Linked DNA regions of Homo sapiens. The protein of the gene in region 4 purifies or fractionates together with the protein of the main gene of each other region. This does not show direct contact. Each region holds a gene or a part of one and is shown on either strand. Other genes may lie near its edges.

Region 1 (7,931 bases), about 28 Mb from region 4:
TTTACTCGCTCCCGATCATTGCTGTCGACCACAAATATCAACCCTAGGAAGGCAGAGCATGGGCTGCACTAAGATGACAGGTAACCCCCTCCCCCCAACCAAAAGACCACACCTGCCTGACACCCTCCAAATATTTGCTCCCTTTCCTCCCTTTCTTCTGCCCCCAGGAGCTGCAGCAGGGTAACAGTTGGCCACCCATTAACAAAGACAGCCACACTCTCTGCTCATACCCAACCAACCCACGCTAGGCCTGAGCATACCTTGGGTGTTCTGGAAGTAGTGTCTCCAGAGGGGTCGAATCTTGTCCTGGCCACCCACATCCCACACTGTAAAGCTGATGTTCTTATACTCCACTGTCTCCACATTGAACCCTTTGGAAAAAAAACAGGCAATGGCCACTTGGCCTCAAACACTAGCCCCGCAAACACCACCACAATGAGTTTGGTTCTGCTTTCCCCCAGTGGTGGCCATAACACCAACAATGGAACAAAAGCTAAGGCTTCCTCAGACCTGATAATCGTTAAGCTAGCAGCCTGAAGGCCAAAATGAAAACCTAAGAGAAGTCAAAGAGGATGAGGAAGTTGGTTGAGAGGTTCACAGTTGCCTGGGTAACGTGGGCCAACTTTCCTGACTTTTCCACTCAGTCTTTGGTGCTCCCTCCTACAAAATGACTCAGCCCTGCTCTGGTACTTTGGCTACCAGAGTCGGCCTCAGCTAAGATGTGGGGCCTGAGAGGCAGAGTGAAGAAAGGGAAGTAAGCTGGCATCCTGGAGCCCCAAAGGCAGAGCCAGCTGACAATGCTGACTGGAGCCCCCATCTACATAGCAAATGTAGGGAGACCTCCCTTCAGCAAACTGTAACCAAGATTGGCCACCAAAGATCTAAACCCAAGTAATTCCAAGCCTTTGGCAGGAACATCAAAGCCTTTTACCTGCTTTCCAAACAACACAGAGAAGAAACCAACTCCGTGCCTGAGGGCAGCTGTTGAGTGCCAGGCCATGGAAGTTCCCGCATCAGGGAGAGCCAGGTTAGGTGGGCAAACAGCAGCCTCAGCACCTGGTAGTAAGCTAAACAACACCACCCTCTTTTCTGAACCCCACAAATTGTATGGACTTGCCTGGGGAGAAGAGGCCAGGTTGGGGAACCAGGAATAGGTCCCTGCCCTGCCTCAGCTGCCGGCGTGAAAGCCCACATCCAAGCTGTGCTCTTACCAATGGTAGGGATGGTGGTGACGATCTCCCCGAGTTTCAGCTTGTATAGGATGGTGGTCTTTCCTGCGGCATCCAGGCCCACCATCAGGATGCGCATCTCCTTCTTCCCAATCAGGCTCTTGAGAAGGTTTCCAAAGATATTGCCCATGATCACAGCAGCTGCTTTCTGGGGACAGTGGGGCCCAAGTAGGGGCAGTGGCAGTCTGGTTTTGGCCTGGTCCCTGGTATGGAAGACTTGATCCTAGACAAAGGAAATGTAAAATCATACCATCATTTGCTTGTCAGGACTTCCAAGTAAATAGAATTTCCCAAGGTCATGGCTAGAGTTCATTCATGACAAACGGAGAGCCTGAGGGGACTATAAATACCAAGGCCCACTCAGATACATACTGAGTCTTTGGGAACAGAGACAAAGCAGTAAACACTAAGGATCCCTGCTCTGCCAGTAATCTAACCATGTGACTCTGGGCAAGTTACTTCACTTTTCCATATCTGCACCTGTAAATGGAAGGGGGATTGAACTAGATGATTTCTGAAGTCCCTTCAGTTCTGACATTCTACCCTATACCCAAAGGCATTGTAAGATCATTAATGCCCCTCCCTCCCCTAACCTTACTTACCCTGAGACTTCTGGCAAGGGTGGGAGAGGAGGGAGCGGAATAAGGAGTGGCTCTCTGTGACTCCTGACAAGGTTCAGGCTTGCCAGTTTCCCAAGGTTTATGCTTTCTCCTTTAATCAAGAGACTCTGCCTCTTCCCTTCCTATATTTTTGCAACTCCATCTTTCTTCCACACCAAAATAAAGGAGGAATAAGAAAGCCGCACTCTTAAAAGAAGCCGATCCTTTACACTCTGTGGAATGCCAGCTGCTAATGTTGTGCCCTGTTCAAACAACAGTGCACTGGCAGTAGAGAGGTGGGGTATGGCGGGGCTACCCCTTTACTCCTCAGCTAGGTGCATCCTTGGCTTACTGTGGCCCATCCAAGGAGGGGGCTGTCCCACATGGTCGCTGCAATGAGGCAGTCATCTCATTGGTTCTCTGCTTCTTCCCTAAGCCTTTCGGCCTATTCTCCATATAGCATCTAGGGTGGTTTTAAAACCAAACTCAGGTCATATGAGTCCTTTGTTCAAAACCCACTCGTGGCTTCATAGCTCCTTTTCAGTAAAACCCAAGGCCCAAACCATGGCTTACAAGGTCCTACAAGACCTACACTCCCCTACTTCTCTCATGAGATCTACTACTCTCTCTTTGCTTACTCCACTCCAATTCCCCAACACTTTCCTTTCCTGCCTCAAAGCTTTTTTTTTTTTTTTTTAAAGAGGCGAGGTCTTACCGTGTTGCCCAGGCTGGTCCCAAACTCCTGGGTTCAAGCAATCCTCCTGCCTTAGCCTCCCAGGGCACTGGGATTACAAGCATGAGCCACCATGCCTGGCCCAAAGCTTTCATATTTGCTATCACCTCTGCCTGGAATGCTTCTCTTCCAGATAACCATCATAGATTACTCCTTCACCTCCTTCAGTTAGTTGTCTGTTTCAATGTCACCTACCAAAGAGGCCTCCCACAACCACATGTATAACACACACACACAGACACACACCACTCCCTACCCCATTTATCCCACTTTACTTTTCTTCACAACATTTATCACCATCTGATACATTATATATTTATTTCTTGCTGATTGTTTTATTCTGCCTAAGATATCAGCTCCTTATGTGTTTTGTTCACTGCTCTGTCTCCAGTACCAAGAATAGTGCCTAGCACACAGTACTTCAAAAACTGAACTAATCCCCAGGGTCTCTACTGACTTTACTGAAAGCTCACTCAGACTGGATGCTATGCCTGGCATATGGTAGGCACATAACAAATACCTGCTGAGGCCGAGCGCAGTGGCTCACGCCTGTAATCCCAGCACTTTGGGAGGCCCAGGCGGGTGGATCACCTGAGGTCAGGAGTTTGAGAACAGCCTAGCCAACATGGTAAAACCCCATCTCTACTAAAAATACAAAAACTAGCCGGGCATGGTGGCACACTCCTGTAGTCCCAGCTACTCGGAACGTTGAGGCAGGAGAATCACTTGAACCTGGAAGGTGGAGGTTGCAGTGAGCCGAGATCACGCCACTGCGCTCCAGCCTGGGTGACAGGGCGAGAATCCATCTCAAAATAATAATAATAATAGTAATAACAACAACAAATACCTGCTGAAAGGATGAACAGGACCAAAAGAATCATTATGAAGGTATAAAATGTCTATCTGCTCACCCCAGCCATTGCCCCAACAGACAGAATCAGATTCATTCATTCATTCCCTTTCTTCTTCCCTCTCTTCTCTATGGCACAGGATAGCCACAGAAATGCATCTTTGAAACAATAATAAAATGAGGATTCAGAATCACCCATACAAACCAGTTCTCTGTGCCTGCAGGAGGCATGTGTCAGCGGGCAGCTTATTCAGCAATCACCATATGCCAGCTGCTGGCATTCTCTAGAGTCTGGGAACCAGAGACACACACACACCCCAAACTCAGCAGCCAAAGGGACAGGTCAAGACAAAGTGCGCCCAAACCCAAGAATGTGAAAGGTGGACGGGGAGGAATCCTATTTACAAGCTAACGCATGGGGGTTTGGTGGGAGTTTGGTTGTTTTTACAAAAACTTCTGACATTTCCCCCACCACCCTTCTCAGTTTGCAGCAAATTCCAGACTAGTGCAACTGAGCCAGATCAACAGTCCCTGAAGACCAAAGTACTAGTTTGTCCGAAAAAACAGAAACAATGAGTGCTTATGAAGTGTTTCATCTTCAAAAGGCCTCCCCAGACAGCCACTAATGAGCCAGGCGTGGCACTCTCAGTAGGTTCCCCAGATGAGCCCTACCCCTGACCTAGAGGGTTCACACACCAGGAAGAAGGGCTAGCTCAACCTTAGGGTTCAACTTCAGTCAAGCCACCCGCTAGCCTTCCTCCCTACTCTTCCTGCCTCAACCCACCCAGGTGGACAGACTCCTGAGGACCCCTGAGCGACCTACCCAGCTAAGAACAGCTCTCACCAACCTTGGCAATTTGTAGTAGTGACTTTTGGTCATACTACTAACACCTCATGAAATTTAAACCTTTCCCAAGTCTTCCTAGTCTTCTAGCCTTTATTCTGCCTCTTGCTCAGGCAGCCTTTCCTTCAGCTCCAGATGACACTTTGCTTTAAAGGTTTGGTATCAGGCTTTGGCCCAGATTCTGAATTAAATTTATGCCACACATTTATCTTGCTGTCCTTTATGACTGAAACTATTGCTGATTAAATGCTTACCAACTGTGAGTATAGTGGTGGCTGAAAAAGATATAACTAGCCAATATGCCTTGCCCCAGAACACAGGTACACTGTCCTTTGATTTGCTTCTTTGCTCGGCTGTCATGCTGAAGTCCTGGTTCAAAAGCTGATCCCAGTGTTACACCTATTATTTCCTGGCATGCCACATCAAGGCCTTACTTTGAATGACCTTAACCACTCAATGTGGCACTTACTACCTTGTCGAGTTTTTCTTCTTTTATAAGTCTGTGTATTTACTGCTTCCCACGTTAAGCTGTGTATTCCCTATGTGCAAAGACTATGTCTACTTATTTTGAATCTGTCCTCCCTCTAGTGCCAAGTAGATTGTGGGAGTTCAATTAAGCACATTGGCTGATTTAAGCCTCATCTGAGGATGTCCTTATATTATTTCTTCTGTCCAGTAGGATTTGGTATCTCTGTGTAATGCACAGCGAGTTGCTTAGCTATCCTGTCCATTCTCAGCCATTTTCCACACATATTTGACGCAGGACTGGTTTGGGAACAACATAAAAGGACTAGAAGACTAGAATTGGTGGGATTCTCTCTTGCCATTTAATATACAGTGGGACTGATGAATAACTGATAAAATATCTAAATAGCTGGCCAGGCATGGTGGCTCATGCCTGTAATCCCAGCACTTTGGGAGGCTGAGGTGGGCGTATCACCTGAGGCTGGGAGTTTGACACCAGCCTGGCCAACATGGTGAAGCCCCATCTCTATTAAAAATATAAAAATTAGCTGGGCATGGTGGTGCGCGCCTGTACTCAGGAAGCCGAGGCAGGAGAACCGCTGGAATCCAGGAGGCAGAGGTTACAGTGAGCTGAGATCATGCCGCTGGCACTCCAGCCTGGTTGACAGAGGAAGACTCTGTCTTAAAAAAAAAAAAAAAAAAAAAAGGCCGGGCACAGTGGCTCACGCCTGTAATCCCAGCACTTTGGGAGGCTGAGGTGGGTGGATCACCTGAGGTCAGGAGTTCGAGACCAGCCTGGCCAACATGGTGAAACCCCGTCTCTATTAAAAACCCAAAAATTGGCCGGGTGCGGTGGCTCACACCTGTAATCCCAGCACTCTGGGAGGCCAAGGCGGGCGGAACACGAGGTCAGGAGATCGAGACCATCCTGGCTAATACAGTGAAACCCTGTCTCTGCTAAAAATACAAAAAAATTAGCCGGGTGTGGTGGCTACTCGGGAGGCTGAGGCAGGAGAATTGCTGGAACCTGGGAGGTGGAGGTTGCAGCGAGTCGATATCATGCCATCACACTCCAGCCCGGGCAGACAACAGCAAGACTCTGTCTCAAAAAAAAAAATTAGCTGGGCGTGGTGGTACATGCTTGTAGCACCAGCTACTCCAGAGGCTCAGGCAGGAGAATCGCTTGAACCCAGGAAGCAGAGGTTGCAGTGAGCCGAGATCACGCCACTGCACTCCAGCCTGTGTAACACTGAGACTCCATCTCAAAAAATAAATATCCAGTAGCTATCATGTATCTCCCTGGCACAGCCCAGGACCTTGAAACTAATGGATGTTATGACTCCTCCTCTTTATTTATTTATTTTTTTTGAGACAGTCTCGCTCTGTCACCCAGGCTGGAGTGCAGAGGCAGAGGTTGCTCACTGCAACTTCTGCCTCCCAAGTTCAAGTGATTCTTGTGCCTCAGCCTCCCGAGTAGCTGGGATTACAGGCATGTGCCACCATGCCTTGCTAATTTTTATATTTTTAGTAGAGACGGGGTTTTGCCATGCTGGCCAGGCTGGTCTCAAACTCCTGGCCTCAAGCAATCCACCTGCCTTGGCCTCCTGAAGTGCTGGGATTACAGGCACGACCCACCACGTCTGGCCATGACTTTTCTTTAAGTATAATCTGGAGCTTGACTTAAATGAGCATTTCAAAGGGGATGCTGGCTTTCTTGTCTTGGTTTTCCCTGTCCCTTGCTAATACCAGAGAGCATGCTGCCCTACCACCAAGATGGTAGCAGCTTTCTGCTTTGTGCCATGAATACAAATCTCTGGCTATACAGCCTATTCTCACTTTCACAATACATTCCTAAAAAAGCACTAGGAAGCAGAATGGCAAAGCAAACAAACCATGAATTGTTTCTCCATGTATTATATAGCCTATAGTTACTCTCTTTCACCACAGATGGTACTCCTGTGTTTATAGGGCAAAATGCCAGGGTTCCATTGGCTGTTGGATACCAAGAATAAGCAGTTAAGACTGAAAGTGAGTGGCTCAAGATGAAAAATGGAATATACTAACATCTCTGTTAAAAAGATATCTGCAGGTTCTGTTTTACAGTCAGAAACTTTATTATCACAGGTAAAAATAACAATAGGAACCCAAATATGTGCTCTAGTACAATCTGTGTGGGACACTGTAGGAATTCAGTTAAGCACATCAGTTGATTTAAGCCTCATCTAAGGATATCCTCACTTGAGGACAACTCACTGCTCCCACCTCATCCCCCCAGGAGAAGCAGGCTGTTGCTGTAACTGGCTACTCAGCCATCTTTCCTTACATATGTTGCAGGAACGTGCCTGCCTCAATCTCCAGGTGCTTTTGAGAGTCACACATCCCAGTCGGCCACACATACTCCCTCTACCTGATTCCAGTGAATGATCCAAGAATGTGCTATGAGACACCTCTGAGGGGACTCCTGATCTGGCACTACCTCCTCCTCTTCAGCGTCCAGGGGAAGGAAGACCAGGGTCTCCCAAACCCTCTGCTGCCAGGCAGAGTGCAGTAAAAACAGCTTTGTTCTTAGATAATTTTCAAATTGAAATATCACTAAGAGATGCTATTTTTAGCACAGCTAACCAAACAGACCAATACAATTTAAAGAAACAAAAGCAGAGTACGCCCGTACTGAGTTTTCTTGGTGCAGCTGGCTCGTGACCTGTGTAAACTCCAAGTTTTTGTCTCAAGAGCACTGAAATCAGAACATAAGAACTCCTAGATGATATCTGAACTATTTCGACTAGACTTAAAGATTTCCCAAAGTTAAGAAATAGCTTCTGATACCAGCTTTCATCCATTCATCAAACTTTTTTTTTTTTTTTTTTTTTGAGACAATCTCGCTCTCTCGCCCAGGCTGGGGTGCAGTGGCGCAATCTCGGCTCACTGCAACCTCCGCCTCCCAAGTTCAAGCGATTCTCCTGCCTCAGCCTCCCGAGTAGATGGGACTACAGGCGCATGCCACCACACCTGGCTAATTTTTTGCATTTTTAGTAGAGACAGGATTTCACCATGTTAACCAGGATGGTCTTGATCTCCTGACCTTGTGATCTGCCCACCTCTGCCCCCCAAAGTGCTGGGATTACAGGCGTGGGCCACCGTGCCTGGCCTCATTCATCAAACATTTATTGGGCATACTGAACTAGGGATACAGAGAGGGAGACAGTTTCTG
Region 2 (7,931 bases), on a different chromosome or scaffold from region 4:
GGCTCACTGCGACCTTCGCCTCCCGGGTTCAAGAGATTCTCCTGCCTCAGCCTCCTGAGTAGTTGGGATTACAGATGTGTGCCACCACGCCCAGCTAAATTTGTATTTTTAATAGAGATTGGGTTTCACCCCGTTGGCCAGGCTGGCTTCAAACTCCTGACCTCAGGTGATCCACCCACCTCAGCCTCCCAAAGTGCTGGGATTACAGGCGTGAGCTACCGCACCCGGCCTATATTCCTTTCTATAATAGAAAGGTATTTGGCTATTTTAGTTGATTTAACAGAAAAATAGACCCCCCCCCCCAACCAAAGGACAAATTAAAGAAACAGCAAACTTACCTGGCAACAGCCTCAAGACTATTACTGTAGATATTGATTCGCCCAACAAATCTGTAAAAAGAACAAAATTGCAAATGTGTTTTCTACATCCAGGTGAAATCCATGTACCAGAAATATGAGAATGAATGAAAATACAAATAATAAAACAGAGATAGATAAAACTGTGAATGAACTACAAAAGCCTATTATATTTCTGGGGGAAAAAAAGTTATGTTGAATTGATAAGGTGTATAACATTTTCATATAATTTTTAAATAACATGATGGGATTATAGGAGCAGAAACAAAGGTTCTCAATTGATTTTCAAGTTCTGTTTAACATCATGCATGCACACAACACCTCTCTCTTTTATAAGTTTATATAAATAACGTAACTTCTATCTTGGATCATGTGAAGAAAGGTTTCTGGTGCTAAAATACAATTTTCAAAACCGCTAGTTCAGTAGTTCTTACACTTGAGTGTGCATCAGAATCACTGGAGCGCTAATTAAACCACAGATTTCTAGGTCCCATCCCTGAGCTTCTGATTCAGGTTCCCCAGTAATGCTGCTGCTGCTGGTCCTGAAACCACTCTTTAAACCATAGTACTAGTCTTAGACAGTGAACACTTGAATGCCATCTTGGAAATGTCCAGCCTGTGACTTGTAGTTGATCTCAATACTGAGCTTGACCCAATCACTTAATATAATAGGTGTATGGTAACCTGTATTTCTGCAAAATAAGGTAAAAATACCTAATCCCTCGTTAACATCAGTGTTTTATAATCTGCATCGTAAACAGCATTTTCCCCAGAAAATAGAAATATATATTACTCATATACACAAAATATGAAGGCTTGCTCATTCATTCATCATATATTAATTGTGCCAGTGCTATACTAAGTGCTGAAGATGTACTAATAAGCAAAAAAGAAATGGCTCCTTGCCCTATAAAAGTAAATAGGCAATTACGACGCAAGTGCTTACCACTAGAGTGATAGAAGTACAAGGTATTCCGAAGTCACACAGCAAGGAATTCAATCGTCTAAGGAAATAAGGAATAACCTTCCCTGTCCTATCATTCTCCTTCATACTTAAAGCAACTGAAAAATGTGGGGATTTCCCTATAAATATGCAAGGGTATAGATATTGTTCTCTAGCTCAGGCAGAATAAGTTACTCCCTTTTCTGTGATTCCATAGACCTTACACTCACCTCTATTATCACCTTGTATAAGCTTAGCTTTATTACTTCATCTCTTGCTCACAGTGAGTCCCTTGAAGGTAGAGAATAACTGTTACACTTTTTGGCCCTAGTTCCTATCATCAAGGTGGATACGGAAGAGGAAGGGAAAGAGGAAAGAAAAAGTGATGAGAAGGAGGGAGGTCATTGTTCTTGAAGTAGAATGAATACTTTGTTTTTCCACTACTAGGTGTTAGTGTAAACCACATCCAACCACTTGGTCACTCATTATGACTAACAGCATGCATTAACAAGATGGGTAATGGATGCCATCTGCAACGGTAGAATAGGATAAAATTAATTAGCCCACGTGGGGATAAAACCTGTTACACTACCCTGATTAGTACTATGCTCTAATCAACCCAACTAACCAGTCTTGAAATCAAACGCCAATTTTTGACAACCCACAATGACTAATAATCAGCAAACCTACTCCAGAGAGCCTAAGTATAGTAAAATAGAGGAAATTACACCATTGTACTCATCCCTTAACTGTTTACTGTGGACAAGAAAGAGCCTATTTGCAATCTTTAGTGCATCATGATCATTCTAAGAAAGGATAGAACCTACTAATTGCATGAAGAGGATATCCCCCTTCTCTCTTTAATGTTAGATGGCATGTAAAAGGATTTGTTTTTTATTTAATTAACTGGTTACTGCATCAGTCTGATAGATCAGCCTTACAGGGTAACATAATCTAAAATTTTGATATATGGCCATGTTTACAAGTAATAAAAATAAAAGAAAAATCATAAGATACCTGGGCCCACAATGATTTATTCTGGGTTGATAGTGAACAAGGCTGATTTGATTCATTTTTCTGCCAGAAGGAAGGAATCGCCCATAAAAACACAAATGAGAGTAGGCTGGTAAGTGGTGGGTGTTTCTTTTGCAATACTATTAGCAAAGAGAAGCAGAGCCAACAAACAGAAGTAAAATGAAACCAGGTGATTCTTACTTGTAGAGGTCAGGTTGAGGCTGTTCACATTCAATTGCTGCTCGGAGGGTATCGATGGATTCTGCTGTACACAGTGCAATGGTATCACGTACTGCATAATGTGTCTAGTTGAAAGCAGAAGAAAAAGTGAAAACCAAAAAAACTTTCTTTTCATAATCATACACCCAACTGATTTCAGAAACAAATTTAGTTTATGTTTTAGTAAGAGGCTTTGGCAGAATAAACAAATATTAACATTTCCCACTAATAAGTTTTATGGTATTATTATGAAAATATATTACAAATAATTAGAAAGATAACCTGCCGCAAGGAGGGTTTCAAAGACAATTAAAAACCTAAAAGCTCTTCTTGACATGGACAGCTGAGAGAATTCTATTCACAACATGCATATAATTAACTAAAACCACGTGAAAAAGTTAATACATTTATTTTTTTTCCTATTTACAGAACTGAGACTTATTATTTTGCTCACTATAGTGTATGGCAATGGAGATATACACATATGAATTGAACATAACCTTTTTGGTCACAAAAATGCTAAAATTTTGCCAACAGCAAGAAAAAAATCATTAATAGTTCCATTACACAAATAGCTTAATTAATGATCTTGAAAATGTTCAATATGGATACATTTTGTACAAGGGGCAGGGAGATGACGTGTCTTGCATTAGTCAGATAATTAGAATATTCTACTAGTGTATATTATGCACTTGATTCATCCAGAACTCAAGGCAGGCGCCAATGAACCCACTTATAAATCATCAAACAAGGGTTAAAGCAGACTCAAAGAGCGCACCACTTAGGCAGAAGGGAAAGCTGTTGTCGTCATCTTGGGGGAAATATTACGGCAATGTCTGAACTATATTTAAAACTATCTCCTGATTTTGAAAACCTCTGTACTTTTAGCTGATTTGATCAGAACAACTTAACTGAAAAAAGAAACTATCTGAAAGTTTTCTTACTCCAAACAACTTTTTCACTATCAGGAAATCTTTATGTAGATTTCTTGATTTATATCTTGACATTCCCTAAATTATAACTTTGTTTTTGAAAAGGTTAAAAGCAGGTCATTACCATGCTTTTGAAATACAGAATTAGTCATCCAACAGGTAAAGGTTCTTTTTTACATACTGAGTCGTAGTCCTCAACTCCAGATGGAATAAACAAACAGAGGAGCCCTCCAAGGACATACCCAGAGGTGAGCCACATGAGTAACCCTCCTTAAAGGCAGCATAGAGAGGATACATCTTCATGCCCTGTGGAGCTCTGGACCATGGCCAAGAAAACCGACTGTGCCAGAAAGTGTATGAGGGAAATAAGTTACCCCCATTTGGCCAAATTTACTTTAAGTCACTTGCAATTATAAATGAGTTATAATTTGTTATATGTACATAAAATGTTGCTTTATAACTTACTTATAAAGCAAACATTTTCCAAACTACACCCTATCTTTTTTTTTTTTTTTTTTTTTTTTTTTTTTTGAGATGGAGACTCACCCTGTCACCTAGGCTGGAGTGCAGTGGCGTGATCTTGGCTCACTGCAACCTCCATCTCCCGGGCTCAAGCAATTCTATTGCCTCAGCCTCCCGAGTAGCTGGAATTACAGGCGCCCACCACTATGCCCGGCTAATTTTTTTGTATTTTTAGTAGAGACAGGGTTTCACCATGTTGGCCAGGCTGGTTTCGAACTGCTGAACTCAAATGATCCGTCTACCTCAGCCTCCCAAAGTGCTAGGATTACAGGCGTGAGCCACCGCACCCAGCCCTAAGTATTATTTTTAAATAGCAATCAAATTACTCCAGGTTGGGTTTCCTACATCCCAAGAATATACATTTTTAATGAAAATATACATTTTAGAAAAAAATAGATCAAATTGTAAGGTTAGCATACATGAAGTTATTTGTATAGTCACACAGTTTAAGCCTATGATTACTCCCATTTTAGAGTCTAAATATTAAATAGGCTGTGTCAATATTAAATTCAAGCAGTGCTATAAAAATTGTGGTAGCTTTTACTTGGGGCTCAGTTTTTCCACACGTAATTACCACCCTTTTACCCAAACACGAGTGTTTGCTTAGAAGTTAAAAAACAATTACATAACAGCTCTTTTCAAATATAAAACCTAAGAAAAAATAAAAATAAGAAAAAATAAAAGATTAGAGGGTGATGGGAGGCAGTATTGTATGATTAACTATCCTGAGATCAAAATGTTTAGGCAAGGTTTAGTCTGTTACCTTGCAATTGGATTCCCCATCAAGACTGGCTGTAGTGACATAACAGGTTCCATCAGTGGTGCAAGATGATAGAAGAATAAGATCACAGGGAAAGGTTTCATCTGCCTGTACTTCTACTACATCACCAACCTGGAATTGAGAAATAAATATAAATATTTTAAATTCCAAACAAAGCATTCATTACACTCATACAAAAGTCAAAACATTAGCAAGAGATTATCTCTAGCTCTGGGGCTTTGAGAGTATCTCAGCATCCTACATCATGTGAAAGGTGATGAAAGAATATTACTCAATATTCAGAATCCTCTTTAAGGTTAGAAGGACTTAGGATGCTTTCAGATTACCTTAGCACTGACCTTTACCTTTAATAAATGATTCTGACATCCGTTTGCTCTCTGATATTTCTTGCACAAATGTTTGATAAGACAATGACATTATCACTTCATGAATGAATCAAGAAAATCTACAACATGTCACAAACTGGGCACTTCATGAACACTGAACAGCCACACTCCCACTCTGTACCACGCATACTTCAACATACTTTGCCTGCCATGTGGTAACAACTGTGTTGTTGGGTGCCAGGTCCTTCTTCAGTGCTCAGAAAATCCCAGTTAATTAGAGAGGCATTGATTTTTCCCAAAATATTTGAATTTTTTTTTTCTATAGGTCACTTTCTATGAATTCATCTGCTGTCAGGAGAATCACTTAATATAGCAATGAGAAACAATTTCTTATCAGCAAGTACCCAAAGCTCAAGGAAAGGAAAAACCTGAGAGAAGAAATCATGAATAATTTAATAATGTAGGGTTAAGTAAATCATAACCATTAAAAGTTTGGACTCTTTAACCTGACTTCTCATCCCAGCTCTGCCACTTAACTATATGACCTTAAATAAGTGTCTTAGACGATTGCAACTACCTCAGAGAATTAATGTGAGCATGAAATGATGATACAAGAAAAGTACTGAGCAAAGTGCCTGGCACATATTAACTACTTCAAAGGTGTTAATTATAATTATTACTAACATCCTGCAACTACTTTACTCCCAACTTATGAAGAGTCATAACATTTTTTTGGAAAGATATAAGAAATCCTCCAGTCTGGTCCTTCCCAAGATTTTCACACCATGGTACATATTGAAAATTATAAATAATACTTTTGTACAGCACCTTCAGGTAAAGGGAAGAGGCTGCTGGATGCAGAAGATAACCCACTTTAGAAGGGAGTCAATATTTGGCACACTGACCTAGACACACTGACTGTGAAATGCTAGGTAATACATGCAACACCCAACTTCTATTTGCAATATGATTCGGCAGATAAAGATGAGGATTTCAAGACCTATTCAGGAAGAATTTTATTTTCTTTGCCAATCTTAATCACTAGCCAAGATCAACAGCATCAATAATTGAACTAACTTGTAAATAATATTTTATTTTGTTGGATTGTTCCTTCCTCACTTACATAAACACTTATGTTGCTTACACAAAACCACAATTTATGCTTAAATATGCAGAAGAGAGATAACAAACAGAATCCTAACACATCTTACAAGAAGGAGATACCCATTAGAGGTCGGAAGATGACTCTCAGGCATTGATAAATAAAACACACAAAGAGAGCATTTTTTCAACAGTTAGGATGTAGTCAGATATGAAATATAAAGGCCCCTATATCTGCAGTGCAAGCTCAGACTGACAAGATGGGTATGAGTCAGATCACAAAGGGCTTAGCAGGCCAGCCTAAGGGATTTAGGCCTCACTCTAAAGGTAAAAGGATAGGTACAGGACTTTTAAAGACAGGGAATAACATGATCTAGTTAGACAATGAACTCTAGAGGTCTATTTACCATTTTAAAAGCCACAAGAGAACATCACCACCTCCCATTACAAACATTAGGAAAAAATGGATAATCTAAAAACAAATACGTATTTTTTAGTCCATCAGAGAGCTGAGGTTGCAAAGCAACCAAGTGAACTGAATTTCAAAGGGTAACAAGTGTTTCTGAGGAGAGACAGGACAGATGAACTGTTTCATAACTGACCAAGCATAGAAGGAAGAGATGGCTACCATGAAAGTGGGTAAGAAGAAAACAACTAGATTTTTAACCAATTCCTAAAGACTGGGTGTGAGCTAGTATGACAGTTCAGAATCTCTACAAGCCTGAGAGACAAGAAGAGACCACAACCATTCACCAGCTCTTCTCTAGAGGCTTCTACTGAGTGTTCATGAGAAAGCATACAGGCAGGAGACCTAAAAGAACCTTTCTCACTGGCACGGGCATACAGGTGGTGACTGCTGTGAAGAAATAGGCACAAAAAAACCATGCCAGAATCATAGACCCCTTTCTCATATTAAGCAAATGTCATCTGCATCTAGGAGAAAGGCAGGAAACCTTCCCTGGCATAGTCTCAGGGAAACATCACTACTGTTAGAGGAGAGGTAGAAACAAAAGTGACCTGCTACAGGGGATGGGACCTGCTACAGGGAATTGGACAGGAAACCTATCATACCAATAACCTGGTGCTGATACAAGGTAGAAGTTCAGTTACTATGAGGGGGGAGGATATTGAGAAAGTCTTACCCTGAGGCTTTGGTGCATATGGCCTGCTTAATATTGTGATTGGAATGAGAAAACCAAGAAATCATTCTGTTCCTGCCAAGAGCCTTACACTGAGTAACAAACAAGAAATAGCAGTCTACCACTGGAGAAAAGGCAAGGGAACGTGGGGCGGGGAGGGGCAACCTCTGGGACTCGGGAATATAGGATGTTGCTGAAAGCAGATAGTATAACAGGAACACCATAAAAAACTCTCCGGCACACCAGGCCCCACACAAAGCTCAAGGTAATGGCATTCTACCACTTAAGGAATTTGAAGTTAAGTGACACATTAAAAACATCAAAAACCAAAGCCAGCCCAACTGTTGACTAGATTGACTCAACCGCCAACACTAGTGGCCTGACAGAAGAAGCCAGGCCCATTTCAGAACACATATACCACTGACCTCAGTGAATACCATTCTTTTACATACAATGCCCAAAATTCAATTAAAAAATGAGATGCACAAAAACACAAGCAAAAAATGAGCCATCATTGAAAGATAAAGCAGTCCATGAAACCAGACCCAAAATGTCCAGATTTTGTAATTATGAAACAGGGACTTAAAAACAGCTATGA
Region 3 (6,368 bases), on a different chromosome or scaffold from region 4:
CCATTTTGGCCAGGCTGGTCTCGAACGCCTGACCTCGTGATCCACCTGACTCAGCCTCCCAAAGTGCTGCGATGACAGGCGTGAGGCACCGCACCAGGCCCACAGATCTTAATTTAAAAAGTTTTATGAAAAAAATCAATGCCCTTTGAAAAACAGGCTGGGTGCGGTGGCTGATGCCTATAATCCCAGTACTTTGGGAGGCCAAGGCAAGTGGATCACTTGAGGCCAGGTGTTCAACACCAGCCTGGACAACATTGTGAGACCCCATCAATATAGAAAATAAAGTTTTTTAAAAAGGTAATGCTGGAGGAAAGCTTAGGATTGACAGGAAACACAGCCTTCAAGGGAAAATGCTTGCATTACACTGAAAAGTCTCTTTAAAACAAAAACTGACGAAACAAAGCAGTACTCACATATACTTTAGGCTTCGTTTCCACAAAAGGCTCTTCAAAGTCAGAAAAATGGAACCAGCATAATAGAAAAACTACAAATGGCCAACACAGATAAAAATAAGTTCAACCGGCATGGTGGCTCAAGCTTGTAATCTCAGCACTTTGGGAGGCTGAGGCAGGTGGATCGCCTGAGGTCAGGAGTTTGAGACCAGCCTGGCCAACATGGTGAAACCCCGTCTCCACTAAAAATACAAAAATTACCCAGGTGTGGTGGCAGGTGCCTGTAATCGCAGCTACTTGGGAGGCTGAGACAGGAGAATTGCTTCAACTCACTTGAACCCAGGAGGTGGAGATTGCAGTGAGCCAAGATTTCACCACTGCATTCCTGCCTGGGTGACAGTGAGACTCTGCCTCAAAAATAAAATAAAATAAAGTAAAATAAGTTCAACCTCAGGGAGGTGCAGATAAAATCAAGGAGGTATTCAGCATGTATCAGATTGGCAAGGGCTGGACAGTTTGGCACTTCTTGCAGGGCTTAGGAAGTGGGGAAACGGAAGGCATGATAATGAGTGCCTGGGGTGGGTGGGCACAACCACCGAGACATCAACCAGCAACGCCCACCAGTTTCTAAATCTGCATGTCCTGGAAATGAATCAAGTATCCAATAACAGAGTAACTGTTAAATTACGGTAAGTGGTTAAATAGAATATGAAGCAACCATTAAAAAAGCAATTAGTTGGTGGGGCACGGTGGCGCATGCCTGTAGCCGAGGCGGTTGGATCACCTGAGGTCAGGAGTTAGAGACCAGCCTGACTAAGGTGGTGAAACCCTGTATCTACTAAATACAAAAAATTAGCCAGGCGTGGTGGCGCATGCCTGTAATCCCAGCTACTTGGGAGGCTGAGGCAGTAGAATCACTTGAACCCAGGAGGCAGAGGCTGCACTCCAGCCTGGACGACAGATTGAGACTTCATCTAAAAATAATAATAATAAAATAAAAGTAAAAAACCAACTAGTTGAAGTGAATTCTATTGTATTAACAGAGTAAAAATGCCCCAAGTCCCAATGTTAAGTGGGGAAAAAGCAAGCTGTGGGTGACTGAGGACCATAAGCATCTGACCCTCTCAGCAATCTACACATGTAGGAACACTCCTGCCACTACATGCAAAATGCCAAGGAAGATGCACGGCAGTCGGTCACTACGGTGGGGAGACTTTTTTTCACAACATACCCTTACTTTTAAGAAAAAAAAAAAAGTGAGTATGTTCCTATTATTTCAGTTTTGTTTCTTCTAGGAAAAATAGTTGGCAGTATTACTAAAGGCCCTGAGCCACCAAACTGATAAAAGGACATTTGTTTTAATGATTCCTCAGAGCATTTCCAATTTGGTCTTCCTTCCCACCAATGAGGCTTCCTCCCTAGTGACTTTGAGATGGGAGTCTCGCTCTGTGGCACATGCTGGAGTACAGTGGCGCAATCTTGGCTCACTGAAACCTCTACCTCCCAGGTTCAAGTGATTCTTGTGCCTCAGCCTCCTGAGTAGCTGGGATTACAGGCCTGTGCTACCACGTTTGGCTAATTTTTGTAGTATAGTCCGTGTTTCGTTATGTTGGCCAGGCTGGTCTTGAACTCCTGGCTTCAAGGGATCTAACTGCCTCAGCTTCCCAAAGTGCTAGGATTACAGGCATGAGCCACTGGACCTGGCCCCTAGTGACTTTCTTAATAATCTTCCCCTTTTCCGTGACTCGTGGGTAGGCAGCGTCTCACGTGGCCATGCATGTCAGTGACCCACACAGCCTCCACACTGTGAGGTTAGCATGTCTCGTGGGCAGACAGCAGTGTCCTTGGATGTACCCGGGGGCTTTGTGCTGTAGAGATGTTATTTTAAATAATAAGCCAAGTCGAGGATGGGAGCGTTTCCATGGCAACTTGAATTTTAAAACCAAGATTTCTTTGGTTACTGTGGTGGCTGAGAACACAGGCAGCTGCCATGTCCAGTGGCTCTCAACTCCTGGAGGACAACCTGCCGTGGCCATTCCCTGGAGTCCCACAGGGCCCCCTCGCCACTTCACTAGCAGGCGACTTCCCTGCACCCGCCCTCCTTTTCATGGTTCCCAGGCCCTCCCACACCTCCCTGTGCTCCCTACTCATTCCCAGGCTCCCCGGGGCCACCGCTGCCAGCCCCAGGGCCCAGCCCATTCCACTAGTCCCAGGCTGAGCGCTGGGAAGTTCTTTCAGCCCCGCACCTTGGCCCAGGGCTGTGGTGTTCCTGGCTTCTCTGCTCCTCCCCTATGGTATCCAGGTTGGGGCTCAAGGGGCCGCCAGCGTGCTGCAACCGGACGATAAAATGAGCCCTGCACTTGGAGTCAGGAGACCTGCATTTGGATCTGGCTCTGCCACTGACTAAATGGCACCCTTGGGGTCTGACCTTCCCCAAGCCTCAGTTTCACCACCTATAAAATGGAGCTAGTAACCATCGTGTCTCAGGTGGCAGTCAAGAATGAAATGAGGAGGACCAAAGCGCCGGCACATGCCTGGCATGCAGTGATAAGGTAGGAAGGGCACTCGCTCCAGCGGGCTCTGTTCCCTCCCTCTCTCCTCTAACACTTCTAGCTCTCAGTTCACACTAAACCTATTCCAATAGGTCCCCAACGCCAGGAAGAGTCTAAATGAAAACAAGTTTGTTTTTTTTGTTTGTTTTAAGACAGGATCTCACTCTGTTGCCCAGGCTGGAGTGCAGTGGCACGATCATGGCTCACTGCAAACTCTGCCTCCTGGGCTCAAGAGATCTGCTCCCCTCAGCCTCCTAAGGAGCTGGGACTACAGGCATACACCACTACGCCCAGCTTTGTATTTTTTGTAGAGATGGGGTTTTGCTATGTTGCCCAGGCTGGTCTCAAACTCCTGGACTCAAGTGATCTGCCCGCCTTGGCCTCCCAAAGTGTCGGGATTATAGGTGTGAGCCACCATGCCCAGTAAAACAAGCTCTTAACTTCAATTAACCCCAGCATTTAACATCCAAAAATGCTTCCACTCTTGAGGGTCCCGAGACTGCTGAGAACTCAAAAAGTGTCAAGCCAAACACAGAGGTCCTGACAGCAGTGGCAATCTCACTCCATTGTGCAACAGGCGCCTTTCTCTCCACAACAACGCAAATCTCAATCACTCTGGACAAATGCAGATGGTGAAAGTGACAAGCTGAGCTGTTAACAGCTTTCCAGGGTCTTTGCATGGGACAGCAACCCATTTTCACTTCCCTTTATATAGGCACCCACTTCCCTTTTATTTCTTAATTCTGTGCTTTCTGCTCTGCTTCTTACAAGAGATGATGAACACAAAGTCCTTATTTCACGAGGGAAGGATGTGAACTCTTGTGTGCCACAAGACCCCTTTCCAGGATGCGGGCTGGTGGAAGAACAGCTGCGAGCAGATGTCATCTCTAGACCTTGGTCTGCTGTGCTGCTTAGGCAGACCTGAGTTCCAGTGCACCCCTCTGCCCCTTTTCCAAGCTAATCTTTGGGTTAAAAAAAACAGAAAAGGGTGCTCCTCATATCCTCTCTCTCCAAACCTGCAGAGCACTTATGAGAAAGCACGCTCCACCCCGGCTCTGTAGAACGTTGTTATGTGCCAAAAAGAGTGTGCGGCCAGGCGACTCTATCAACCAGAGCACCTTCCTCCCCCGGCAAACGGCACCCTAGACTACCTTGAAGCCGTTTCCAGGACAAATAGGGACCTTGCGATCCTGGAAGGAGGTGGAATGAAAGTCAAAGGAGAGGAGGTGCGGCTAAGTCACAGGAGGTGTTAAGTCCTGACACCCTTAAAGAATCAGTTTTGGGCTGCCACCAAGCTCAATAAAGAAGGCTTTCTGGCCAGGCACAGTGGCTCATGCCTGTAATCCCAGCGCTTTGGGAGGTCAAGGCAGGCGGATCACCTGAGGTCAGGAGTTCGAGACCAGCCTGTCTCTACTAAACAAGGTGAAACTCCTGTCTCTACTAAAAATACAAAAATTAGCCAGGCACGGTGGTGGGTGCCTGTAATCCCACCTACTTGGGAGGCTGAGGCAGGAGAATCACTTGAATCCAGGAAGCGGAGGTTGCAGTAAGCTGAGGTCACACCACTGCACTCCAGCCTGGGCAACAGAGCGAGACTCTGTCTCAAAAAAAAAAAAAAAAAAAAAAAAAGGCCGGACACAATGGCTCACGCATGTAATCCCAGCACTTTGGGAGGCTGAGGCAGGCGGATCACGAGGTCAGGAGTTCAAGACCAGCCTGGCCAACATGGTGAAACCCTGTCTCTACTAAAAATACAAAACTCAGCCGGGCATGGTGGTGCTGCCTGTAGTCCCAGCTACTCAGGAAGCTGAGGCAGGAAAATTGCTTGAACCCAGGAGGCAGAGGTTGCAGTGAGCCAAGATCACACCACTGCACTCCAGCCTGGGCGACAGAGCAACACTCTGTCTCAGAGAAAAAAAAAGAAAGAAAAAGCTTTCTTACATGGTCACAGAGCCCTCAGGTAGACTGCACTTTAAATCTGTAAAGGATTTAAGGAGACAGGATATGTACACTTAAAATTTCCAAATAAGCCAAGTTGCTAGCTCCTGGCTGATAGACAAAAAAAGTGAAAGAATTCTTAGCAAAGCTGTCATGCAGTATTTTGCTCTTCCTCATTCGTTGGTGCTGTGGCTATACTGCTGGCTCCTCTCATAGTCAGCTCTAAAGAATTGAAAGTTGGCCGGGCACAGTGGCACACACCTGTAATCCCAGCACTTTGGGAGGCCAAGGAGGTGGATCACCTGAGGTCAGGAGTTCGAGACCAGCCTGGCTAACATGGTGAAATCCCATTTCTACTAAAAATACAAAAAATTAGCCAGGCGTGGTGGTTGTGCACCTATAATCCCAACTACTCGGGAGGCTGAAGCAGGACAATTGCTTGAACCCAGGAGGTGGAGGCTGCAGTGGGCTGAGATCGCACCATTGCACTCCACCTTGGGCAACAAGAGGGAAACTCCGTCTCAAAAAAACAAAACAAAACAAAACAAAAACAAAAGTCAAGTGCTTACATTTTGCCAGAAGCCACAAATGAAGACTGTGCCTTATAGGCCAGCAGAGCGGCTAAGAGCACGGGAACAGTGGAAAGGTGGGGAGACTGTGAAGGCTCAGTAAGACCTTCCCAGAGTACTTTGTTTCTTTCTCTTCTATAAAAACTAGTCTTGGCACTCACCGCTAATAACGGCAGTTGCTCCTGAAGTTTTGACCACTTAAGTGCAACCACAAAACAAGACTTCGGCGAGTTTCATCTTCCCCTACTTCAACCTGCCAGACACACCTCAATGCTGGAGCAGCCCTGCACTGGGTGGGAGTGTGCTGACCTCAACTATGCTCTGTTGTGACCCAGAGACCTTTCCTTTTTGAGTATGAATCACAGCCTTGCTGTGGCCTCTGATGTGTTACGTCTTTGCCCCTAATGGAACTGTGTTTAGTAGATTCTTGGCTTATGATTAAATTAAGGACAAAAACAAAATCCAAAGGGCTCTCAGGCCTCGGTCTCATCAGTCCCCTGATGAACGGGCACCAGAGGCCCATCTGTCCCATGGAGCAGGCTCCCTGCAGCTGTAGCCCCGAAGCAACTGAAAACCTGTCAGAAAACCCACCCAGCACACAGGTGTGCAGAGGCAGCAGTGATGCTCACCAGCCTTGGAGGCTTCCAGGGAACCAGGGGAAGCAGAGAAGCCCCACTCCACCTCCCTCACCTGAACCAGGTTGGCCACTCACAGGTCCTTCCCCGTGCTGCCCACCTGCCAATCATCTATGCAAACCAGGTACTGCAGGCCCAGCCCACGCAAGCTGCTCTCCATAGGCCTGAAGACACCTATGAGTGGAATATTGTACAAGGTCAGCCACAGCAACCCCACATCCTGCAGACAAAATGACTACTGTACACTTGAAACAGCAGACACTACGAAGGCCCTCAGCAGTT
Region 4 (8,639 bases):
GAAATGAATGAAATGAAGTGAGAAGAGAAGTTTAGAGAAAAAAGAATAAAAAGAAACGAACAAAGCCTCCAAGAAATATGGGACTATGTGAAAAGACCAAATCTACGTCTGATTGGTGTACCTGAAAGTGATGGGGAGAAGGGAACCAAGTTGGAAAACACTCTGCAGGATATTATCCAGGAGAACTTCCCCAATCTAGCAAGGCAGGCCAACGTTCAGATTCAGGAAATACAGAGTACGCCACAAAGATACTCCTCGAGAAGAGCAACTCCAAGACACATAATTGTCAGATTCACCAAAGTTGAAATGAAGGAAAAAATATTAAGGGCAGCCAGAGAGAAAGGTTGGGTTACCCACAAAGGGAAGCCCATCAGACTAACAGCTGATCTCTCGGCAGAAACTCTACAAGCCAGAAGAGAGTGGGGACCAATATTCAACATTCTTAAAGAAAAGAATTTTCAACCCAGAATTTCATATCCAGCCAAACGAAGCTTCATAAGTGAAGGAGAAACAAAATCCTTCACAGACAAGCAAATGCTGATTTTGTCACCACCAGGCCTGCCCTAAAAGAGCTCCTGAAGGAAGCACTAAACATGGAAAGGAACAACTGGTACCAGCCACTGCAAAAACATGCCAAATTGTAAAGACCATCAAGGCTAGGAAGAAACTGCATCAACTAATGAGCAAAATAACCAGCTAACATCACAATGACAGGATCAAATTCACACATAACAATATTAACTTTAAATGTAAATGGGCTAAATGCTGCAATTAAAAGACACAGACTGGCAAATTGGATAAAGAGTCAAGACCAATCAGTGCACTGTAGTCAGGAAATCCATCTCACATGCAGAGACACACATAGGCTCAAAATAAAGGGATGGAGGAAGATCTACCAAGCAAATGGAAAACAAAAAAAGGCAGGGGTTGCAATCCTAGTCTCTGATAAAACAGACTTTATACCAACAAAGATCAAAAGAGACAAAGAAGGCCATTACCTAATGGTAAAGGGATCAATTCAACAAGAAGCGCTAACTATCCTAAATATATATGCACCCAATACAGGAGCACCCAGATTCATAAAGCAAGTCCTTAGTGACCTACAAAGAGACTTAGAATTCCACTCAATAATAATGGGAGACTTTAACACCCCACTGTCAACATTAGACAGATCAATGAGACAGAAAGTTAACAAGGATACCCAGGAATTGAACTCAGCTCTGCACCAAGCGGACCTAATAGACATCTACAGAACTCTCCACCCCAAATCAACAGAATATACATTCTTTTCAGCACCACACCACACCTACTCTGAAATTGACCACATAGTTGGAAGTAAAGCTCTCCTCAGCAAATGGAAAAGAACAGAAATTATAACAAACTGTTTCTCAGACCACAGCGCAATCAAACTAGAACTCAGGATTAAGAAACTCACTCAAAACTGCTCAACTGCATGGAAACTGAACAATCTGCTACTGAATGACTACTGGGTACATAATGAAATGAAGGCATAAATAAAGATGTTCTTTGAAACCAATGAGAACAAACACACAACATACGAGAATCTCTGGGACACATTTAAAGCAGTGTGTAGAGGGAAATTTATAGCACTAAATGCCCACAAGAGAAAGCAGGAAAGATCCAAAATTGACACCCCAACATCACAATTAAAAGAACTAGAAAAGCAAGAGCAAACACATTCAAAAGCTAGCAGAAGGCAAGAAATAACTACCATCAGAGCAGAACTGAAGGAAATAGAGACACAAAAAACCCTTCAAAAAATTAATGAATCCAGGAGCTGGTTTTTTGAAAGCATCAACAAAATTGATAGACCACTAGCAAGACTAATAAAGAAGAAAACAGAGAAGAATCAAATAGATGCAATAAAAAATGATAAAGAGGATATAACCACCGATCCCACAGAAATACAAACTACCATCAGAGAATACTATAAACACCTCTAGGCAAATAAACTAGAAAATCTAGCAGAAATGGATAAATTCCTTGACACATACATCCTCCCAAGACTAAACCAGGAAGAAGTTGCATCTCTGAATAGACCAATAACAGGCTCTGAAATTGAGGCAATACTCAATAGCTTACCAACAAAAAAAAGTCCAGGACCAGATGGATTCACAGCCGAATTCTACCAGAGGTACAAGGAGGAACTGGTACCAATACTTCTGAAACTATTCCAATCAATAGAAAAAGAGGGAATCCTCCCTAACTCATTTTATGAGGCCAGCATCATCCTGATACCAAAGCCTGGCAGAGAAACAACAAAAAAAGAGAATTTTAGACCAATATCCTTGATGAACATTGATGCAAAAATCCTCAATAAAATACTGGCAAACCAAATCCAACAGCACATCAAAAAGCTTATCCAACATGACCAAGTGGGATTCATCCCTGGGATGCAAGGCTGGTTCAACATACGCAAATCAATAAATGTAATCCAGCATATAAACAGAACCAAAGACAAAAACTACATGATCATCTCAATAGATGCAGAAAAGGCCTTTGACAAAATTCAACAACCCTTCATGCTAAAAACTCTCAATAAATTAGGTATTGATGGGATGTATCTCAAAATAATAAGAGCTATCTATGACAAACCTGCAGCCAATATGATACTGAATGGGCAAAAACTGGAAGCATTCCCTTTGAAAACGGGCACAAGACAGGGATGCCCTCTCTCACTGCTCCTATTCAACATAATGTTGGAAGTTCTGGCCAGGGCAATCAGGCAGGAGAAGAAAATAAAGGGTATTCAATTAGGAAAAGAGGAAGTCAAATTGTCCCTGTTTGCAGATCACATGATTGTATATCTAGAAAACCCCATCATCTCAGCCCAAAATTTCCTCAAGTTGATAAGCAACTTCAGCAAAGTCTCAGAATACAAAATCAATGTATAAAAATCACAAGCATTCTTATACACCAATAACAGACAAACAGAGAGCCAAATCATGAGTGAACTCCCATTCACAATTGCTTCAAAGAGAATAAAATACCTAGGAATCCAACTTACAAGGGATGTGAAGGACCTCTTCAAGGAGAACTACAAACCACTGCTCAATGAAATAAAAGAGGATACGAACAAATAGAAGAACATTCCATGCTCATGGGCAGGAAGAATCAATATCATGAAAATGGCCATACTGTCCAAGGTAATTTATAGATTCAATGCCATCCCCATCAAGCTACCAATGACTTTCTTCACAGAATTGGAAAAAACTACTTTAAAGTTCATATGGAACCAAAAAAGAGCCCGCATACCAAGTCAATCCTAAGCGAAAAGAACAAAGCTGGAGGCATCACCCTACCTGACTTCAAACTATACTACAAGGCTACAGTAACCAAAACAGCATGGTACTGGTACCAAAACAGAGATATAGACCAATGGAACAGAACAGAGCCCTCAGAAATAGTGCCGCATATCTACAACTATCTGATCTTTGACAAACCTGAGAAAAACAAGCAATGGGGAAAGGATTCCCTATTTAATAAATGATGCTGGGAAAACTGGCAAGCCATATGTAGAAAGCTGAAACTGGATCCCTTCCTTACACCTTACACAAAAATTAATTCAAGATGGATTAAAGACTTAAATGTTAGACCTAAAACCATAAAAACCCTAGAAGAAAACCTAGGCAATACCATTCAGGACATAGGCATGGGCAAGGACTTCATGTCTAAAACACCAAAAGCAATGGCAACAAAAGCCAAAAATGACAAATGAGATATAATTAAACTAAAGAGCTTCTGCACAGCAAAAGAAACTACCATCAGAGTGAACAGGCAACCTACAGAATGGGAGAAAATTTTTGCAACCTACTCATCTGACAAAAGGCTAATACCCAAAATCTACAATGAACTCAAACAAATTTACAAAAGACAAACGACCCCATCAAGAAGTGGGTGAAGGACATGAACAGACACTTCTCAACAGAAGACATTTATGCAGCCAAAAAACACGTGAAAAAATGCTCATCATCACTGGCCATCAGAGAAATGCAAATCAAAACCACAATGAGATACTATCTCACACCAGTTAGAATAGCGATCATTAAAAAGTCAGGAAACAACAGGTGCTGGAGAGGATGTGGAGAAATAGGAACACTTTTACACTGTTGGTGGGACTGTAAACTAGTTCAACCATTGTGGAAGACAGTGTGGCGATTCCTCAGGGATCTAGAACTGGAAATACCATTTGACCCAGCCATCCCATAAGTGGATATATACCCAAGGGATTATAAATCATGCTGCTATAAAGACACATGCACACGTATGTTTATAGCGGCACTATTCACAGTAGCAAAGACTTGGAACCAACCTAAATGTCCAACAACGATAGAGTGGATTAAGAAAATGTGGCACACATACACCATGGAATACTATGCAGCCATAAAAATGATGAGTTTATGTCCTTTGTAGGGACATGGATGAAACTGGAAACCATCATTCTCAACAAACTATCGCAAGGACAAAAAACCAAACACCGCATGTTCTCACTCATAGGTGGGAACTGAACAATGAGAACACATGGACACAGGAAAGGGAACATCACACACCGGGGACTGTTGTGGGGTGGGGGAGAGGGGAGGGATAGCATTAGGAGATATGCCCAATGTTAAATGATGAGTTAATGGGTGCAGCACACCAACATGGCACATGTATACATATGTAACAAACCTGCATGTTGTGCACATGTACCCTAAAACTTAAAGTATAATAATAATGAAATAAAAAAAGAAAAAAACTGTACTGAGAAGACTTTTTGCTTATTTAATTGGAGATAAATTATCTAGAAAATATATTTCCCTTCACCCTGTATCAAACTTGAGTTGAAACAAGGAAACTGAGGTGGTTATGTGACTTTGAGACACCTGTTTTTTATGTTTGCCAATTAACTCTTCCCTCTACTCCCACCCTTGGCTGCCTTCATCCAGTTAAGAAGACATCAAAGAAATAAGGAGTCTAGTGTGATCAGTCAATGTAGTTGACAAAAATAATTATCCTGTAGCATATTTTAAGAAGGTAACTAGAGCTTCATTTTTGAGACTTGATTTTTATTTGTTTGGAAATTAATAAGACCAAGATTTGAAACTTTATATTTAAATATATAAAGGTATTATTTTCTCTACTTTATTTTTAACAGTATATAAACCTGAGGCTCTTCTACTCCCAGAAGGAATATTTACTATGTTTTAAGGGCTCAGAATGTAAGCGTGTGGAAGACACAGAGCATAAAATTCGTAATATTTTTCAAGACCATCAAAATCTTCTTCCGTGAAAATTTCTTACATAAAATATATGTAAAAATTAGAGAATCTCAATGGTTCTTACCTGGATTTAGAATCCTACAGCAACTGCAACAAGTCCACCCTTTATTCCTCTTAAAGTAGTTGGCTTTTTGAAAACAAGTCCAGTGATGATTAACCACCTTATTATGTCATTGCTCTAGTCAAACATATAAAACCTAGTTAGTTTTAAGAGTTCACTCCAGTTGCCAATATTTAAAGATTATATTTCTCAGAATTCTCACATTATTTTTTGTTAATCTTAACAAGTAAACCTTACTTTTGGGAATGGCTTTTACTTGTTTATTCAATTAAGTTGGTGGCATAAGATTTTTTTCTTTAAAAATATGAGTACAATAAATTATTCCAGGTATTTAAAACTTCCAAATAGGAAATAATTTAAGACAAATAAAAAATATGCCTACAGGTTACATTGGCATTTAAAAATTAAAATATACCCTCTTTGCTTGGTACATAAGTATGGTTCTAACGTGGTATGTATGGAGACTGGAGATACCACCTGGAATAAGAGAGTCCCAATTAACTGCAAGACCATTTTTCTGAATGATGAAAATTAAGACTGCTTTATGCGATAGATTCTTTACATCAAAACAGGAAAGAATTATTAATATCACAGTTTCCTTTTATTGACTTGACTTGTGGAGAAAGGAAGAGCTTAACTCAGTTAAAAGTTTTCTTGAGTAGAGATGAAGTTTAATTAATTCAATAACTCAAACATTTTAGACTCTCAATTATACCTTGGACATTAAGCTCTCTTCTGAAATAAAGTACAGACCCTTCTCTCACATAAATATATATATTTCAGAAAAGTGTGAAGATATATGTATGTATATACACACAAACATACATGTATACATATATACACACTTTTACCTGTATACACATATGCACATATATATATGTGGTAATGTGAGGATGCATATATGAGAATATGGTTACCCCTTATCATTCATGGGACATTTGTTGATATGGTTGCAGCAAAATGTATTTGATGTCTGTGCCACAGTTATCTGATTGATTAGTTCTATTCTTGGTTAATTATTGAGAGTATTGGAATCATGAGACAAACTAAAGAGTAGTGTAGAGGGGAAGAATGACTGTGCAGAACTGAGAAATGTAGACCCAAGGCCAAAATATTAGAGTAAGGCTTCCAAATACTCTGCTGAGTAAGAATCTACTGGCGAGTTGTCAAAATAGCAATCCAGTCCCATACCCAGCAGATTCTGGCTCAGGAGACCAAAGATTATGCCTGTTAAATAAGCACTTTGAAAAATTTTCATGTACTGCCAGATTTTGATATCATAACAGGAATGCAGAACATTTTCCATCATTTTTATGGACTTCCTTTTATTCACAATGGGAATACAGTTTGGGTTTTCTCAGGCTAATGGTTTTCTCCTCAGACATCCATTTCATTGAAAACACATCAACATGTTTGGAGACTAATATATATATTATATACAATGAAGATAAAACAGTACAAACTAACTAACAACCTTTATAATCCTGAGCTAAAGGTGCCAGTTGTAAAATTCTCCAATATTTTCAGAGGTCAAAGAGCATTCTCTGTGCCCCTTTTCTCTTCCTAATTGTGTAAATAATTAGACTGCTCATTTTGTGGGATCATGGAAAAACAAGAGTACACCAGGGGAAAGATGTTGCAAAACATCTTTCAAGATCAATATTATGCTAACAGCCACGCATCAGTTAGATGACAAAAATTGATTTAAAGAATCAGCTGATATTTTTTTCAGGAACGGCTATCACAGCTCTGATGAAATATCATGGCCTTTGAAGTCTGAAAGACTTAAATGCCGATATGTCTCTGCTACCTGCCAGCAGTATAAACATCAGTAGGTTATTTACCATTTCTGAGCATCAGTGCACTCATCTATAAAGTAAGAAGTCTATATTTGGAATAAAGATTTAGTGTATGTAAAGTGCCTTACATAATGCCTGGCACATTATAGATTCAACACCTAATTAGATTAATTGTATGATATTTGCATATTATAAATTTTAGAGCAGTTAATTTATATTAAATGAATACAAATAAAATCTCTGAGATCTGTATCCTGTAGATCTGTAAAACCTATGTCCAATAGGTTTTAGCCCCAGAGTTCTCAGGTGTGTACCACAGGCACACCTCAAGAGGGAACCGTCAGGCTCCAAGCAGATCCGCCCTTACCCGAACATTTCACTTCTGTTGGTGCTGATTAAGAGACAGCTCCAGAAAGCTACACTCTCCTGGAAAGAACTCCTATTCTACATATTATTCTCCAAACATGTTTCTATACCCACCAATGATCAAAGCTCTGGCATCATCAAGACTAATATTACCATGGCAATTATCGCTCTTATGGTAGTGACCACCATAAGAAGGTAGGGATTCCCTGATGACTCATCACCTCTTCTCTAATCCCCACAGGGCTCTGCACATTCCTATGTTTGCCCCCATCTTCTCTCTTTCTCCCAATCCTGGACTGAAATTCTTCTCTTGAGTTTTCTGGAACCCATCACTAGTCATGACTGAAACTCCCCTTACCTTTACCTCTTCTCTGAGTTATTCTGCTTCACTTCTGCCTTGAACTTAAAAATTGGTCTTCCCTGAGACACTCCCTCTCCTGCAGCAGTGATACATAGGGGTTGCCTTATCCCCCATATTGCTGCAAACCAGATGGGCTGGTTTCCAATGTGCCTCACTTTGCTAGTTTCTTTACATTTCCCCACCCTTTACACTCATAATCCATAGTTTTGGATCTCATATTGAAAGACTCTATCACTTATTCCTCTTGTTGAAATCATCTATCAACGCTCAGTCACTCCCACTCATTTCATGACAATTTTAGCTCTCGATCCAAAGCCATTCTCTCAAAATGCTACTACTATTTTAATTATTCATGATGGTAATGACCATGAAGAGAATCTTTTTAATTCTCTGTTTTCTTTTTATTTTCTTTTTATTTTTTAGCCTTCTCCTCAATGATCTTGGCTTCTACCTACTGCTATGGGCATATCCTATGCTTTTCACACCACTGTAATCTCTCCATAATATCAAAGATTGGAGCACCACTCTTTATCACTCCTAGCTCACACTCAGTAACACCCTAGATCCACATGCTTCCACTGACCAGGATGTATAACCTACAATTTGATTTTGCCAGAGATTTCGGTGTTCCTTATCTATACATCTGGGTTAATTTAATGGTCACGGTAATCACTCTCTTCTATATAACTTCATATAATTTTGACTGTTTTGCATTATTTTAATTGCATGTCAAAGCCACAATCTTGATTAAATTTAACTCTCAAATAACT

The links.
Region 1: the proteins of SLCO1B1 (region 4) and ARF3 purify together in Homo sapiens (affinity purification with mass spectrometry; one large-scale study listed by BioGRID and IntAct). This does not show direct contact.
Region 2: the proteins of SLCO1B1 (region 4) and ATP11C purify together in Homo sapiens (affinity purification with mass spectrometry; one large-scale study listed by BioGRID and IntAct). This does not show direct contact.
Region 3: the proteins of SLCO1B1 (region 4) and CTSB purify together in Homo sapiens (affinity purification with mass spectrometry; one large-scale study listed by BioGRID and IntAct). This does not show direct contact.

The regions. Positions count from the first base shown.
Region 1 is NC_000012.12:48,939,737-48,947,667, forward strand, and holds part of ARF3 (ADP-ribosylation factor 3), read right to left. Parts: intron 1,453-7,931; 5' UTR 1,360-1,452; coding exon 1,212-1,359; intron 372-1,211; coding exon 261-371; intron 44-260; coding exon 1-43.
Region 2 is NC_000023.11:139,799,722-139,807,652, forward strand, and holds part of ATP11C (phospholipid-transporting ATPase IG), read right to left. Parts: intron 4,879-7,931; coding exon 4,750-4,878; intron 2,619-4,749; coding exon 2,515-2,618; intron 390-2,514; coding exon 339-389; intron 1-338. UniProt on the Homo sapiens protein: Catalytic component of a P4-ATPase flippase complex which catalyzes the hydrolysis of ATP coupled to the transport of aminophospholipids, phosphatidylserines (PS) and phosphatidylethanolamines (PE), from the outer to the inner leaflet of the plasma membrane.
Region 3 is NC_000008.11:11,855,220-11,861,587, forward strand, and holds part of CTSB (cathepsin B isoform 1 preproprotein), read right to left. Parts: intron 6,261-6,368; exon of another isoform or gene 6,142-6,260; intron 2,722-6,141; exon of another isoform or gene 2,639-2,721; intron 1-2,638. UniProt on the Homo sapiens protein: Thiol protease which is believed to participate in intracellular degradation and turnover of proteins. Cleaves matrix extracellular phosphoglycoprotein MEPE. Involved in the solubilization of cross-linked TG/thyroglobulin in the thyroid follicle lumen.
Region 4 is NC_000012.12:21,127,944-21,136,582, reverse strand, and holds the start of SLCO1B1 (solute carrier organic anion transporter family member 1B1), read right to left. Parts: upstream 5,390-8,639; 5' UTR 5,347-5,389; intron 1-5,346. UniProt on the Homo sapiens protein: Mediates the Na(+)-independent uptake of organic anions.